Regions from separate parts of the Homo sapiens genome. Here all the other regions are reported to be linked to region 1. The links are microRNA targets in miRTarBase. Many come from high-throughput screens and were not tested one by one. Region 1 holds a microRNA gene; each other region holds the end of a gene's coding sequence.
The links. Region 1 holds the annotated microRNA hsa-miR-6752-3p (UCCCUGCCCCCAUACUCCCAG, at 1,887-1,907, opposite strand). A microRNA usually pairs through its seed, bases 2 to 8, with sites in the 3' UTR of a target mRNA and lowers its output. Matches are read on the target gene's strand: a 7mer-m8 pairs with bases 2 to 8, a 7mer-A1 pairs with bases 2 to 7 and ends in A, and an 8mer does both.

Region 1 (4,208 bases):
GAGCAGCTATGGTGTGGCTGCCCCCGTGGACTTCCTGCGCAAACAGAGCCAGCTGCTTCGCTCGAGGGGCCCCAGCCAGGCGGAGCGTGAGGGCCCGGGAACACCACCCACCACCCTGGCACGGGGCAAAGCACGGAGCATCAGCCTGAAGCTGGACAGCGAGGAGTGAGGCCCACACCAGCCTGGACCTGGGTTATTTATTGACACACCCAAGGGGCCCGAGGGGCTGCGTGTGGGAGGCTGGGGACCCAGACTTTTGGCCCCAGCGCTGGCCCCCCCAGCCCCACACCCTATATCTCCGTGTGCTCCTCGGTGTTACTTCCCTTTCATATGAGGGGACCCAGCGCCGGGGGGAGGGAGGAGGGCGTGGGCATGGGCGCAGAGGCTTTTCCAGTGTGTATAAATCCATGAAAATAAACGCCACCTGCACCCCACCCACTCACCCCATGCCTGGCATCACAGGGCAGCCAGCCCAGTTTCCAGTTCAACAGGGGACACTGATGTGCACAGAGAGGCCAACACACACCCAGGGCCATCCAGCTCACAGGCAGGGTCAGGATGGGGGCCTGGGCCTCAAAAGGTCGCACGAAACCCACGCCCAGGGCCATCCATGTCACAGGCAGGTCAGGATGGGGGCCTGGGCCTCAAAAGGTCTCACGAAGCGCTCGGCCCTCTCCTCTTTCTGGACAGTCAGCCCACCCCAGCCCAACCCGGCTCACCTCAGCCCCAGCGTAGCTTCTCATGGAAACCCTGCCCCCAGACACCGAGGCCAGGAGACCATGGGATCCGAGGCTGGAGTGGGAGGGCAGCACCAGGAGACTACCTCCCTCAGGTGCCCAGCTACCTAGCTTGTACCCACTTCATCTCCCCCTTAAGACTGTGGGCTCCTGGGGCGCCCCAGCCCTGGCCAGCGAGAGACACTTCCTTGGTGAAAGAGCTCATCGTAATTTCTCTAACAGGGACACCAGAGCCTCAGAGCTGGTGGGTGGAGGGGCTAGGATTTGAACCCTGATTCTTTGCCTCCCAACAGCCACCCAAGTACCAGGAATGCCAGGTGATGACCCGGCTCTCCCAGTGGAGCAGCTCAGCAGACTCAGAGAGAGATAAATAAAGGCCTTTATATACACAGAAGCATGACGCAGCACGGGCAGGGGGGCTGGCAGCTGCAGCAGTGGGCTTGGCAGGTAAGGCAGGGCCAAGTGCTCCTGTCAATGGGAGAAGATCCCCCGGAACCGGGCTTTGTCCTCTTCGTCCTTCTGCCGGATCCGTGCCTCCAGGGCCCGCAGCTCTCGGCTCACCACAGGCGCCAGGGCTGGGTCCAGCTCCAGCACTTTGGCAAAGTCAGCCTGGGCCTCCTGGGCATTCCACACGGCCGCGTGGGCCTTGCCCCGCTTGAAGTAGGCCTTGACGTTGTCTGCAGGGGAGGCCAGTGGGCAGTGGGCATGCAAGGGCATGAGGGGGGATCCTGGCCAGCTGCCTGCCCTCATGTCTCCTGGCACCATGGGCCCACAGGGGAGAGAGAGCCCTCCCTGACCTGAGGATGCCACCCCACCCCCAATACACCATTCATGCTTCATTGGCACAATGGGGCCCACAGCCCTGCCGAGTAGAGGCATTTAGTCAGGCCCCCGTGGGAGCTCAGAATGGGGGTTGTGAAAGGCTAGGTCTTGACCCCAGCAGTGACAGGAGAAAGGCCACTCTCTGACCACTCGCAGCCCCCGGCAGCCCAGGGCCCGGTGCTCACCGTCGTACTTGTTGAGGATGGAAGAGCAGTGGTCCAGCACCTCGTAGTACTCCTCGACCACCAGCTTGCACTGGCAGTAGTTGAGCAGCAGCGGCGTGATCTGCTGGTCCAGCTGGATCCATTCAGGGGACCCAGGCTGTTCCTGGGAGTATGGGGGCAGGGAGCGGGGAGAAGCTGTAGACCTGGGCCCCCTGGCTCCACACCCCCCTCCATCCATCCTCCCCCTCAGCCTCCAGGCAGTACCTTCATCTGCAGGTTCTTGAGGCAGGCAATGGCATCGTAGTACTTGGCAGCAGCCTCCTTCACATGCCCCTCGCGGTACAACCGGTTGCCCTCCTGGTGGATAAGTGGCACTGCCTTTGCCTTCTCTTCGTCTGTCATGGCCCATGGGTCCTGCTGGTACGTGCCAGGGCTCTCCACCTGCAGGGCATGGGGCATATCACAGCGGGGCTCGGGGACACCACAGCTGCGTCCGTCAGCAGCAGACCTGACCCACATCTGGGCTGGCTGGGCCCCCAGACATCACACACCAGCAGCAGAGCTACTTGTCACTCAAAAAGCATCAAACATCGATGTCACATCTCCTGTGTGCCCAGCACTGTGCCAAGTGCTAAGAATAGAACAGTGAACAAGACGGTGAAAAGCCCTGCCCTCGCAGAGATCATGCTGCATGGCAGGTTCCCTAAATGGACAAGGAAATCCATGAATTCCAAGGGACTTCAAGGTGCGGCAGAGGCTATAAAGGAAATGAGCTGCTGCGAGACAGAGAATGAGGAGACCGGGTGGGCAGGGCCGGTTTCCTGGAGGAGGTGACATTTGAGATGTGAAGGAGGAGGAAAGGAGACCCAGGGTACTGCCAAGGGTCCTGCACAGGTTTTCTTGTCTCTGTCCGCTCCCCCAGCAGTCCACCTGCGGATCCCACCACCCCTGGGTGGACAGGCCAGCGCCGCCCTGAGGCTGGGCAGTGGGGGCCTGGTGAGACCAGGCGCGGTGGCCCCTCACCTTCAGCATCTCCATGTGGAAGATGAGGGGCTGGGGGTTCTGCTGCAGGGCGTCCAGGTCAGCATGGCCCAGGGAGCTGTGTTCACGCATCTGTGCAACACCGCAGCAGTGCCGCTGGCCCTCCAGGGGGTCCTTGCCCACCGCGATGTTGCGGAGACTCTTGGCCACCAGCGGGTACAGGACCACATGCTGCGGGAAGGCAAGGGCGCCGGGGGCTCTGTCACCGTGGGCTGGCTGGTCACCGGGTCCACAAGGCCCAGCCCCCTTCCCCACCACCATCTGAGAACAAACACCAAGGCCCAGAGAGTGACAACTGGGACCCTACTCCGTTTAAGCACAGGAGGCTTTTAATTCAGGACTCCTCCAGTCGCTCAGCCCTCTCTCCTGGTGAAGCCCCAGCTTCTGCCACATTCTCTGGCCACCAAACAGAGCACCTAACCCCCTCCTCACCCCCACCACAGACACATGCCTACCATCAACCCCTGTCTCCCTGGTCCTTACAGGCCCAGTAGAATTCTTACCTCCTCTCCCTCCAGAGGATAAGGCCCTTTGCTGGACTATGCAAAGAACTGGGGCCCCCCACATTCTGTTCCCAGCAGCTCCTCCTTCTGCCCCACCCACACCCCACTGAGGGCCTACCTCAGAGCTGGGCCCAGGCCAGCCACTTCAAAACCCTCAGGGAGGCCGGATGTGGTGGCTCACGCCTGTAATCCTAGCACTTCGGGAGGCCAAGGCGGGCGGATCACCTGAGGTCAGGAGTTCAAGACCAGCCTGACCAACATGGTGAAACCGCGTCTCTGCTAAAATACAAAAATGAGCCGGGCACGATGGCAGGTGCCTGTAATCCCAGCTACTCAGGCAGCTAAGGCAGAGAATCAGCTGAACCCAGGAGATGGTGGTTGCAGTGAGCCAAGATCACGCCACTGCACTCCAGCCTGGGCAACAGAGTGAGACTTAGTCAAAAAAAAAAAAACCCCACAGGGAGACAGGCATAGGGGACCTAGCCTCTAATCTCTTGCTTGGCAAAGCTGCTAGGCTGGTGGGAACCAGATAACCAGATTCCTCCTACCCGGGTCCTCCCCACTCCTCCCACTGCCCTGTTGTCTGGACAGGGGCTGACTGCCGGGCTGCCATCAGCGGGCATTTCCTGAGTCTTGGCTCTGGACTGGCTCGCGCTGGGCATCCCAAAGCTAGAAGTAAACAGGCCAGATCCCTGCTCTGCAATAGCCTAGGACAAGGCAGAAGAGCAGATCCTGGCCATGCAGGGCATGAGGGTTGGAGGACCCAAACATGGGAGTTGAGCCAACCACTAGCAGTCAGGGAGGGCTTCCTAGAGGTGGTGACCCAGGAATAAGCTTTGAAGGAAGAGGGAAGATCTTGGCTAAGAAGGGGAATGGAAAGGAAAAGCAGGGAGGTTGAGTAAGAGGGTGAGACGGCAGGGGCCAGCCCCCAAAAAGCTATG
Region 2 (4,000 bases), not on the chromosome of region 1:
TTTGGGTTGAGGGTCCTTCCTCCTAACTTGGTGAATCTGAATTTCCATCAGTCACTTACTGAGGATCAGAAGTTAATAGATGAGGGATTGGAAGTTAATCTGGACAGCTACTCCAAGCCTCACCACCCAAAGTGGAAAAAGAAGGTGGCGTCAGCCTTGGGAATAGGAATTGCCATTGGAGTGGTTGGTGGCGTGTTGGTGAGGATTGTCCTCTGTGCGCTAAGGGGGGGCCTGCAGCAGTGACAGCTTCAAGAACTTAACAGCCTTGCTCCTGAAGAACTGGCTGCCCAGGAAGCCAAGCTAGCTTTTTAGGGGAGTGTTCCAGCTGCTGGTAGTGGATCAGCTTAGAGGGAACACTCCCACAGCCAAAAGAATGAGTGGGAGAAATGGAGGGGACAATCTCCTGGGAGCTATGCGCAGTAACCTAACTTCCTTATGTCCCATGGATCTCTTCCTGATCTTCCCTGCCCATTGGGTACCCAGGAAACTGCAAGCATTGCCTGTGTTCCTGGGAAGAGTTCTAAGAAGCTTGCATTCATTTTCTACCCTTTATGACTTGGATGCCTCCCCACCTCCATTTCCCCTCTTCTGAGCTGTGTATTCATGTAGAGGGATGTATTCAGCCTTTTTAGTGAACATTTTTTTTCAATAAAAGTAATTCACAGTAGCTGTATGGAGACCTTTTTCTGCTCTTCAGTTTCTTGTATTTATTTAAATTGTCCCATAATCAGTCTGGCTTCATTTTCCTCAGGTTTCTTAGAATAGACATTAAACCAATTGTCTGCTTTTGGGGGCAGGGGGTGCAGTGCATAAGCCTATGGCAGGGGTTGTTAGTAATGACATCCAACTCAGGTGTGTAACAGTCACTAAATATTAACAAATTGCCTGTTCTGCCCAGGTAAATCCCCTGTTTGGTATTAAATTGAATTTCTTGGCAAAACACTAGATCCTTCACCTGGTAGGTTTCCTCTTACCATTCAGACAGCACCTTGGCTTGCCTCCACTCCAGTCCTTTTAGCTCTTTCAGTGCCCTGAAGCTTCTATTCCTGGGAGGGTCAAGTATTGGTTTCTTACAGCAGCCAAGGCCCCCAAAGGAGGATTAGTACTTTGATTCCTCCATAGGAAATCCAGTCTTAAGACTCCGAGGCCATTCGGACCGTGTCTGAGATAATTGGCTTGTGGAACCATCAGGGAAAGACTCTTGGCCACCAGCTGAGCTAATTCTACTGAGAGAATTACAACATTTCTTCCTCTCACTTTTCTCTGACTACAGGAGGTAGCAGAAACCAAAGACCAGCGATTCTCTAGATGTGTGTTAGAATCATCTGGATGACCTTGTGAAAAATAAAGGTTCTTGAGCTCTAATCCTGACAATGCTAATTCAGTTTAAATTATGGTCAAAGGATCTCTATTATTTATTTTACTTTTAACTTGTAAAAATTTCAAACCCATAGAAAAGCTGAAAGAAATGTTTGGTGACCATGCATAGAACCTTTACCAAAATTCACCAGGAATTAACATTTTGTCACAATTATCTTTCTCAATATAGATTGATTTTGTTAAACCATTTGAAAGCTAGTCACAGACATTGCAACTCTTAACTCTTAAACCATGTATGCATCTCCTAATAAGGATGTTCTCTGTAACCACAATATCTTTATCACACTAAGAAAATTAACAATTTCTGGCCAGGCGCGGTGGCTCACGCCTGTAATCCCAGCACTTTGGGAGGACGAGGCGGGCAGATCACGAAGTCAGGAGATCGAGACCATCCCGGCTAACACGGTGAAACCCCGTCTCTACTGAAAGTACCAAAAATCAGCCTGGTGTGGTAGCGGGCGCCTGTAGTCCCAGCTACTCGGGAGGCTGAGGCAGGAGAATAGTGTGAACCCAGGAGGCGGAGCTTGCAGTGAGCTGAGATTGCGCCACTGCACTCCAGCCTGGGCGACAGTGCAAGACTCTGTCTCAAAAACAACAACAAAAAATTAACAATTTCTTTCTTTTCTTTTTTTTTTTTGAGACGGAGTTTTGTTCTTGTAGCCCAGGCTGGAGTGCAATGGTGTGATCTCAGCTCACTGTAACCTCTGCCTCCTAGGTTCAAGTGATTTTCCTGCCTCAGCCTCCTGAGTAGCTGGGATTACAGGTGCCTGCCACCATGCCTGGCTAATTTTTTTGTATTTTTAGTAGAGACGGGGTTTCGCCATGTTGGCCAGCCTGGTCAAACTCCTGACCTCAGATGATCCACCTGCCTCGGCCTCCCAAAGTGCTGGGATTACAGGTGTGAACCACTGGACCTGGCCAAAATTTAACAATTTCTTAATCTTATATAGTTTATACAAGTTGAGCATCCCAAGTATGAAAACCTGAAATCTGTAATGCTCCAAAACTTGAAACTTTTTGAGTACCAACATGGTGCTCAAAGGAAATGCTTATTGGAAGAGCTTAGATTTCGGATTTCTTGGATTTGGGATGCTTAACCTATAAGTATAATGCAAAGATGCCAAAATCTGAAAAAGTCTGAAATCTGGAACATGTCTGGTCCCAAACATTTTGGATAAGGGATACTCAGCCTGTATTCACTTCTCAATATCCAAAATCTTAACAGCTTTTTAATTTCATTTTTGATCCAGGATCAAATAGAAGTTCATGTGTTATGTTTCTCTTAAGTATCTTCTTTTACAACAGACCTCCTGCATTCCTTTGTCTTTCATGACATTGATTTCGTTGAATAATTTACTCCAGTTGTCTTAGATAAGATTCCATAATTTGTATTTGCCATTTCCTCATGAGTAGATTCATGAGGAATGAATCTTAAACATTTTTGACAAGAGCCCTATGTAGATATGTACTTAACTGCACCACATTACAAGGCTCATGTTTTTGTTTATGTTTTTGTTTTTTGAGATGGAGTCTTACTGTATCATCCAGACTAGAGTGCAGTGGTGCAATCTCGGCTCACTGTAACCTCTGCCTCCCGGGTTCAAGTGATTCTGATGCCTCAGCCTCCTGAGTAGCTGGGACTATAGGCATGTGCCACCACGCCTATAGATGGGGTTTCACCATGTTGGCCAGGCTGGTCTCAAACTCTTGACCTCAGGTGATCCGCCCACCTCGGCCTGTCAAAATGTTGGGATTACAAGCGTGAGCCACCGCGCCCAGCCAAGGTTGACCCACTATTGATAATAAGCTTGATCATTTGGTTAAGGTGGTGGATGGCCAGATCTCACCACCAATGTGTGTGTGTGTGTGTGTGTGTGTGTGTGTGTGTGTATTTTCCCCTTTGTAATTCATAGTCTGTGGGGTAATACTTTATGATTATATGGCTCTCCAAAAACTCTTCACATATTTTGGCATCCATTGTTTTTGCCTTGTTGAACATTACATGTTGGGGACTGCAAACTGGCAATTCTTTATGTTCATCTTACCTATATTAGCCTGCATTTCTCTGTAAAGAAGAGCTTACTCTTTTTACCCTCTTTATTTTTGAGGTCTCAATAGATTCTTCTTATTCAGTGAGCTATATATAATCCATTATCATTTTATCTTTTTTTTAACTTTTTAGGTTTAGGGGTACATGTGCAGGATTGTTGCATAGGTAAATTGCATGTCATGGGGGTTTGGTGTACAAATGATCATTATCTTGATGTTCAAATTGTCCCCAATTTTGGCCAGTAGGAGTCCCCTCAGGCAAGCTCTTTTGCCCTTTTGCTGTGGTTTTATTTGACATTGAGCATTTTCTTGCTTCTAGTACAACACGGTATCTCAGATTCACATTTGGACTCTCCTTGCCCCAAACCTGAATCTGGTCTTTCCCCAAGGAACCCTGGTTCCTCTTAGTGTGGGGAGTAGCATTGAGAAACCAAGGTTTGCATGTTGGGTGTGCTCATTGCTACTGGGGAGTCATTGCTCCTAGGCTGTCTCAGTGTCCTAGATGTATATCATGAGTTCAGAGCATCTTTGTTGTTTAAGGTTGTTAGGTGGTTCTGATATATGGCTAAGG
Region 3 (4,000 bases), not on the chromosome of region 1:
TGGCTGCCGAGCCCACCGCCCCACTCAGCCACTCCGCCTCCTCAGACCCCGCTGACCGCCTCTCGCCCTTCCTGGCCGCTCGCCACTTCAACCTGCCCTCCAAGACCGAGTCCATGTTCATGGCGGGGGGCAGCGACTGCCTCATCGTCGGTGAGCGCCAGCAGACGGGGCTCTGGGATGAGGGTGTGGGGTCCGGGCAGCTGAAGCTGCTGCACCCAGCCCTCCCTGACCGGGGTGGCAGAGAAGAGGCCCTGGGTGTCAGGGTGGACCAGGCATGATGGGTGGGAGGGGGCTGGAAGGGAGAGACCAGCCTGGACAGCTGGTCCTGGGGGCTATGGAGGGTCAACGGTCTGTGCGGTTTCAGAGAGGCCCGTGCAGGGCAGGACAGCTGGGACAGCAGGTGAGGTGCCTGGGTCAGTGCTGATAGGGCAGTCAGGCCGCCACTGACCTGAGCATCCTGCAGGGGGAGGAGGCGGCCAGGCGCTCTACATCGATGGGGACCTGAACCGGGGCCGCACAAGCCACTGCGACACCTTCAACAACCAGCCCCTCTGCTCCGAGAACTTCCTCATTGCTGCCGTGGAGGCCTGGGGCTTCCAGGACCCTGACACCCAGTGACGGCCTGTGCCACGGTGACTGAGCCGTGGTGGGGCGGTGGGCCGAGGCTGGGCTGCCGCCTCGGGCAGCAGAGAGCAGATGAAACCCCCATGTGGTAGGCAGGGTTGGGGGACGGCAGGACCCCATGGCCAAGCCTGGCGTTGCCTGGACCTGCTGCTGCCTCTACCTGGGGTTTGGGCTGGGCTTCCCCAGTCCACCTGCATCTGGGTCAGAGCTGGAGGGCCTGCTGTGCCCCCAGCCCCACCCAGAGCTGGCATAGGAAGTACCTTCCTCCTCCGTGGAGGCTTCCATAGCCCAAGGCCTTGGGAGTGTCTGGGTCTTGCTGCCCCTGAGCCTCTCTAGGCAGCCTGAGCCCCTGGGGTGGGAGTACAACGGCAGTGGGAACGTGCAGCTAAGGGTGGGCCTGTGGTGCCCCCTGCTGGTGCCGCATAGCATCGCGCCCTCCTGAGCAGGGCCCTGCAGCCTGGCTGGCTGGCGACTGAATCCCAGCGTAGATCCCGAGAACAGACTGGCACCCTTGGGCCTGCCCCCTGGCGGACCCCACCCCCTGTCCTGGGCGTTTGCCCCAGTTCCCTCCCCAGGCCTCCTGGGCCACCTCTCACATTAACCCTTCTTGGCTGCCTCTGAGGCTCCCCTGGGCTGCGTTTGGGAGCTGCTGGGTGGGAGGAGGAGGGTGGGATTTGTGCTGGGCTCCACCCCCAGGGAGGGTGGGAGCTGGAGGGGGATGTCACATGTCCTTGTGTTTCTGCAGAGCCTGAAGCTTTTGCTGGGCCTCCCTGCGTGTTCCCATCTGAAGAGGTAGCCCCGGGAGAGGCCCTCAGGGACCGACCCAGACCAGCAAGCTCCATTTCCAGGGGTCTGCCCAGAGAAGCCTGGACCCAGGGGGCTTCTCAGCTCCCCTCCCTTCCAGCCCAGGCCTCCTTGAGCTCCTGTAGCCTCTGCAGCTGCCCATTTCACCTCTTTGTCATTGCAATGACCTGGGGCCCAGGGTCACGCCCAAGCCCCTCTTTGTGGCATGCTCATCTCAGTGCAGCCCCAACTGCTTCTCTGCACCAGGCCCCGTGCCCTCCCCTGGCCCTGGCCACACAGCACCTCCTTGGCCACCTTGCATGGATGCATGTCCTCCCTCTGTCCCTCTTGTGGTGCTGTGGCTGGCCACGTGTCAGGGTTTTCTGTGAGCCTCTCACCTTACAGCCTTTGGGCCCCTGGGCCCCTGCCCTGCCTGAGCCCTGCGCTGGCCAGACGCAGGTAGGTGCCAGGGGAGGCCTTGCCTCTGGGCACTATAGGGGGCAGCCCCCTGCCTTGTGACCTCCCTCCATGCCCCATGACCTCCTTCAACTCGTCTTGAGGGTCTGGTCACCACGGAGGGGAGAAGGGAGACACAGAGGCCCAAGTGGCTGTTCTGGGACCATGGAAGCCTGGGTCACAGAGGCAGGTACCAGCAGTCCTGCCCCCACCCCCGTCCCTGCTGGCCTCCAGCCAGTGCCACTTGGAGTCCCCTGCACCGTGCCACTTTCCATCCCCACACCATTGCCTGCTCCTCCCATGGGGCTTTAGCCTCCCCTGACCATCTGCTCATGTAGCCTCTGACTGGGCGCACAGTGGTGCAGGAGGAAGGACCGGGAACCCTGTGTGGCTTTGGGCAAGCTGACAAACCCGTCTGGAACTCAGTTTCCCCAGCTGTGAAATGGGGCCAGTCCCCATGCCCTGCTGTCCTCCTCACAGGACTGTTGAGAGGCTCGCAGGGGGATGGGGTGAATCCCTCTCACGGGGAGAGGTATGGGAGGGAAGTCGCCACTCATCTCAGCCCACCGCAGCCCTCCAGGCCCCCGCCTGAGCCCCTGAGGCCCTCATCTGTACCGCCAGCTTTGGTGTTCATTAAACATGGTCTTGCTGCATCAACTCCAGGGCTCCAAGCTGAGTCTGATCTCTTCAGCCAGAGGGGCCTCCGGGGGCTTCCTGGGCCTACAGCCAAGCAGGTGTGGGAGGCTGCCCGCTGTAGTGCTCACCCACATTCTATGACTGGAATGCTGCAAGCCTCTTCCAGAGGGAGCCCTCCAGGAGCAGGGAAGTCATATCCGTGGACCATTTGTAGGTTTCCCTCTGCAAACTTCCTGAACTGGGTGGTGATTTTTCTGGCGAGTTAAGTCCAGCAGGTTCTGCGTGGCTGCCCCCAGGGGGCCCCACCCGGGCCTTCCAGTGATCTGGACCAGGAAGACGGATTGCTGCTGGGTCATGATTTCCACATCATGAGCGAAGTTCTTTGTTTTTTGTGTGCATGCAAAATATTGTTTCTTTAAATTTAATATCTTTTCCTAACTTTTCTACTAACCTAGAAGGTATGTGTGATTATTATCTTTTTTATTCTTATCACTGTACTTGTTAGTATCTGATATTAGGTATTCCCAAATAGAACATAATTTATTTTGTTAATGTTCTCTATTTCTTCTTGATTATTTATTAGCTTTGGATGTTAAAAATTAGCCAAAAGTGGCTGCTCTGCCTATGAAGTAGCCATTCTTTGTTTAAAAAAAAAAAAAGCCAACATTTGTTGAAACTGCATAATAAATTATCATTTGTTTTTAGAAACATTCAAAGAATTATTTTTTGATTTTTTTTTTTTTTGGGACAGAGTCACCCAGGCTGGAGTGCAGTGGCATGATCTTGGCTCACTGCAACCTCCGCCTCCTGGGTTCAAGCGATTCTCCTGCCTCAGCCTCCTGAGTAGCTGGGATTACAGGCATACGCCACCACGCCCAGCTAAATTTTTTTTGTATTTTTAGTAGAGGCAGGGTTTCACTGTGTTGGTCAGGCTGGTCTTGAACTCCTGACCTCGTGATCCACCCCCCCCTCAGCCTCCCAAAGTGCTGGGATTACAGGCGTGAGCCACCGCGCCTAGCCTATTTTTTAATTTTTTTGAATAGACCACTTTGTGCTGAATAAATGTTTAACATTTATTTTTAAAACAACAATTGCACCTAATTTAAAATAGTTTATTAAATGAATTCATTAAAGCAGATTATATGCCTTTGGGGCTTCAGAAAATCAGTTTAAGCAAAAGAACTTATGAGAGTAAGTCATTTGTACTTGAATTTTTTCAGAGTTTTAATGAACTAAAGTATTTTAATTTTTCTATTTTTGTAAGCCGCATACTTCATTTTTTGAGTTTTTCAGTGGAATTTGTTTTAAAACGTTTTGAAGATTTCAGAGGCCTTCATATTTCTCTTATCCACTTTCTGAACCCATAAAGCCTTTGCAGTCTCCTTGAGTAGTTTATATTTAGTAATTTAGTTGTGTACCTTTTTATTTTGAAGTAATTTTTGATTTGCAGAAGAGTTGCAGAGACGGTACAGGGTTTCCATGTACCCTCACCTTCCCCCAA
Region 4 (4,000 bases), not on the chromosome of region 1:
TCACGTCAGCATCCCAAGTAGCTGGGACTGCAGGCTGTACCATCCATCATACCTGAATATATTTTGCACTTTTTTTTTTTGGTAGAGACAGGGTTTCCTATGGTGCCCAGCCTGGTCTCGAACTCTTGGACTCAAGACATCCACCTCTCTCAGCTTCCCAAAGTACTGGGATTATGGGCTTGTGTTAACAAATCTAGATGGTGGCCCAATTCCTATTTAGTTCTATACAACACTTATTTTACAAGAATGCACAAGCATAACCAAGAATAAGTTAATTATTGTGCTCTATTACAGCTTAGAAAGAAAATAAGTACTAGTGACTTGAATTGTATACAAATGTTTTTTCTTTCCCCTTAATGTTTCAAAAATTTTAAACATAGAACTATAATGGTTATGTAATTATTCTCTTTAAAAATGTTCTATTCATGAAGATTTTTCTCAGTGATAATTTTTATCATAATTAAAAACAAAAGCACATGATTAATTTTTTTTTTCACTTAGGTGTTACTTGTAAAGTTATCACCATGTTCTTCAATGGATTTGCAATCTTTTTGTATAAACCACCTCCATCAGCCACAGATGTGTCATTTCATAAAGAGAATGCAGTTGTGACTAATGTTTTAGCAGAACAGGATCTCAACAAAATAGTAAAAGAAGGGTGAAATGGGAAAAGAGAAGACTGTTTTACACCTGGAAAATTTACCTCGATTTTTAAGAACACACATTGCCATGGCAGGATTATCTATCCAATATGGACAATCATATTTACAAAATTGATGTTTTTATAATCAAATGTATTTTTTTACTTATGTAGTTTTTGTTTTATGCAAGAAACAGACCTGTGCCTTCAAAGCCCACGTAAAGCCTCAAAACACAGCACACACACACACGAGCACACACACACACACACACACGAACACACACACACACACACACACGCACACATACACACTTATTTCCTATTCCCATTGTCTAGGTATGAAATCCTCAAGCAATAACAAGAAAAAAGGCCCACAATTAGAAAAATTTACATTTAAAAAAAATGTTGTTTCTATCCCCATTACAACTTGTTTAATTTTAATTTTCATTGTCAATATTTTGAGCTTAGAACATTTATGGTATAAAAATTTAAACTAATCAAAGTTGTGTGATGATTTCCGGGAATTATTATTGAAAGCCTATGAATTTAAAACCAGGTTTACCATGTAATTTGTTTTTAAATTTATGTATACTAGCCTGGCCTTTCTCCAAGCAAATTATTGAACTATTAGAATATGTTAGTTATCATCCTTGTGTCTTAGTATATAGTGAATACAGAAACATCAGCATTGTATACACATATTTTCACTTTAACTCAAGAATTCCAGGAGGTAATTTGTTGATATTACAATTTTTAACACATTTATGATTCTGTGATAATATTATTCAATTGCATATATTTCAGAGGAAAGTACCAGTCAGTAAAGAAAAATGCCAACTAAACATGAAACTATTGATCAATACTTATATACCTTTAATTTTTCCTATTTGAAAAGCCAACCACTTAACACATTACTCATAGCACCTAAGACAGTGCCTTGCATAGTGTAGTCATCTATTATTATTGTTTAATTAGAATATTAAACCCTACCCTTTAACTCAGCAGTCCCCAACCTTTTTTGCATCAGGGACCATTTTTGTGGAAGACAATTTTTCCATGGGGGAAGAAGGTATGGTTTTGAGATGAAACTGCTCCACCTCAGACCATCAGGCATTAGTTAGATTCTCATAAGGAGAGTGCAACCTAGATCCCTTGCATGTGCAGTTCCCAATGGAGTGTGCACTCCTATGAGAATCTAATGCCACTACTGATCTAACAAGAGGTGGAGCTCAGGCAGTAATGCTCACTCACCTGCCTCTCAGCTCACCAACTGTGTGGCCCGATTCCTAACAGGCCACACACAGCCCAGGGCTGGGGACCCCTGCTTTAACTGATGCATTGATTTGATAAAGTATTTTACAAGCCTGATAATGTTATAACCCTGTTTATTCAGGTCAGATTTATGCCAACTTTGCTGAGAATATGGAGGGTATAGATGAGTGAACATCAACAAACATAACTTCTACCATGGTTAAGAATTTTACTTAGGAAAAGTATTGAAGTTCAAATCCAGATAGTATTACATTTGAAATTGTTATAAGGGTTATTAATTTAATAAAATTCATCATCAGGTTTCCCCTATAAGCTTTCTCCTAGGTTAATTTTCCACAAGCATTGTTTTATATACACTGTAATCAGGATAACACAAGCTTAGTGTTAGATCTTGTAGGAAACCAAGATTAGAAACATTAGAAATTTGCAGAATTTAAGAAATTATGTTTTGTGGTAATCTATGGCCAACGATGTTAGAACCTAGCGCAATTGTAAAGTGAAATTCAAGGAGAAGGAATGAGGAGTTAGGGAAGCAGCATACTTGAATATTAGAGAAGGAGAGGAGCTGTGGGTCAGGAATCAGAGAGACCTGCTAAAACCAGACAGATATAAACACCAAAGACGGAAGCCAAATAGGTAGCCAAAAATCCAGATATTTGAGAAGCAGGAAATTTATAGCAACCAAAGAAATAGGGCAAGAGAGGCAGGTGAACACACATGATACCTCAATTGACAATCTTCCTCCCACCAAGCCAGACACGTTGTAAATGCTGCTTCCTATTGGAGCCCAGAAAAAAGGAAAAGGAAAGTTTAGGCTTTCTTTGTCCTTTGTGTGGAAGCAGGGAATTGGATTGAAGACTTTCATAGTTGTAACATAAAGGCAAATCCTGAGGAACTCACTGATGGAGATGTGAAATGGCAGTAAGGAAGAAAACAGAATAACTGAACAAATATATTAGTCTAGGGCCACTTAATTTAGAGGAAGAAAAAAAATCAACCCATCCATAGAAATAGTTTGATAAACAGGTCACTAAATCATTGGCGTTTATAAAGATTCTTAGCTATCAAGGGCTGCATTGTATTTTATATACTCAGTTTTATAAGGTGATACTTTTTAAATAAGCGCTTTAATGAAAATGGTTAGACTGAAAATAATTTTGGTCCTTAAAAGGAGTCAGGAGCTTTTATATATAAGGTACATATTTTAAAAGAATACCTCCTTTATAACAGGGTTTTACAGACACTACCATAATTTATAATCATTATTTTTTACTTTTGGGTTCACCTAGATCATATGAGTTGATGTGATACTTCTAGAACAAAATTATTCATAGTGCGTTTTTTGTAATTTATGATTGTTAAGTAAGCTTGACTTATAAATTGACATTGTAATTGTGTACATAATTGGATATATGTGTTAAAATTTAACATTTAGATTTACTTAATTGTAGAAAATACAAATGTAAAACTTACACATGGAAAGAACTGTATGCAGTTGACTTTACTATGTAAATTGGAGGGAAACAAAGTTTTAGATCCATTTTCTTTCAAAATTTTCTTTATTGTAAAGTATGCAAAATATATATTCATACCATTTATTAAATCAGAATGTTTATACAAAATTGTCGTGTTTGAGCTTATTAAATGACACAGGTTTGAAACTTGCCTTATCTCTGTGAACATAAGCATATTTTATGGATGGGAAAGGGAAATTAGTATGCTTTTGAACTTGGTGAATGTATTAATAATTTAATCCAGTGATTTCTTGTATCTCAACAGATGTTTTTAATTCAATACAAACCACATGTATTATGAAATATATATTAGGGAAATTCTCTTACACAAGTTTCTACATATGACAGATTAATATATAAGATTTATATAAGTAGGATACATTTTACAGATGGTTTATTTGTAAACTATCTGATAAAAAAGTGTGGGATGTGTTTAATTTATCTCAGTTTATTGTAATAGTAAAATATTTTAAGGAAATAATATTAGATGTTAATTTGAAATGTAATGTTCTTTTCCCCCAGGCTCCTTCAGCTTTTTTTTCAGTAAAGTCCAATAAACACTAACTTTTACAGC

Region 2: miRTarBase lists TMEM81 as a target of hsa-miR-6752-3p. The part of its 3' UTR that is shown has no 7-base or 8-base seed match.
Region 3: miRTarBase lists TBC1D24 as a target of hsa-miR-6752-3p. Seed matches in the 3' UTR shown: 7mer-m8 at 716-722, 7mer-A1 at 2,682-2,688 and 7mer-m8 at 3,406-3,412.
Region 4: miRTarBase lists SLCO4C1 as a target of hsa-miR-6752-3p. Seed matches in the 3' UTR shown: 7mer-A1 at 2,751-2,757.

Annotation. Positions count from the first base shown.
Region 1 is chr11:67,487,994-67,492,201 of GRCh38, reverse strand. It overlaps MIR6752 (microRNA 6752), which reads right to left and starts at 1,957; the gene lies at 1,887-1,957. AIP (AHR interacting HSP90 co-chaperone) reads right to left here. Exons shown (of 6, transcript NM_003977.4): 3 at 2,747-2,935; 4 at 1,988-2,164; 5 at 1,745-1,886; 6 at 1,099-1,414. The coding sequence ends at 1,209. PITPNM1 (phosphatidylinositol transfer protein membrane associated 1) reads left to right here. Exons shown (of 24, transcript NM_004910.3): 24 at 1-434. The coding sequence ends at 169.
Region 2 is chr1:205,079,796-205,083,795 of GRCh38, reverse strand. TMEM81 (transmembrane protein 81) reads left to right here. Exons shown (of 1, transcript NM_203376.2): 1 at 1-667. The coding sequence ends at 243. Among named protein-coding and RNA genes, the nearest start is that of TMEM81, 2.7 kb to the left of the region's middle.
Region 3 is chr16:2,500,341-2,504,340 of GRCh38, forward strand. It overlaps TBC1D24 (TBC1 domain family member 24), which reads left to right. Exons shown (of 8, transcript NM_001199107.2): 7 at 1-150; 8 at 464-4,000. The coding sequence ends at 618. Among named protein-coding and RNA genes, the nearest start is that of ATP6V0C, 12 kb to the right of the region's middle. RefSeq lists an enhancer at 1-571.
Region 4 is chr5:102,233,520-102,237,519 of GRCh38, reverse strand. SLCO4C1 (solute carrier organic anion transporter family member 4C1) reads left to right here. Exons shown (of 13, transcript NM_180991.5): 13 at 502-3,534. The coding sequence ends at 662. Among named protein-coding and RNA genes, the nearest start is that of SLCO4C1, 61 kb to the left of the region's middle.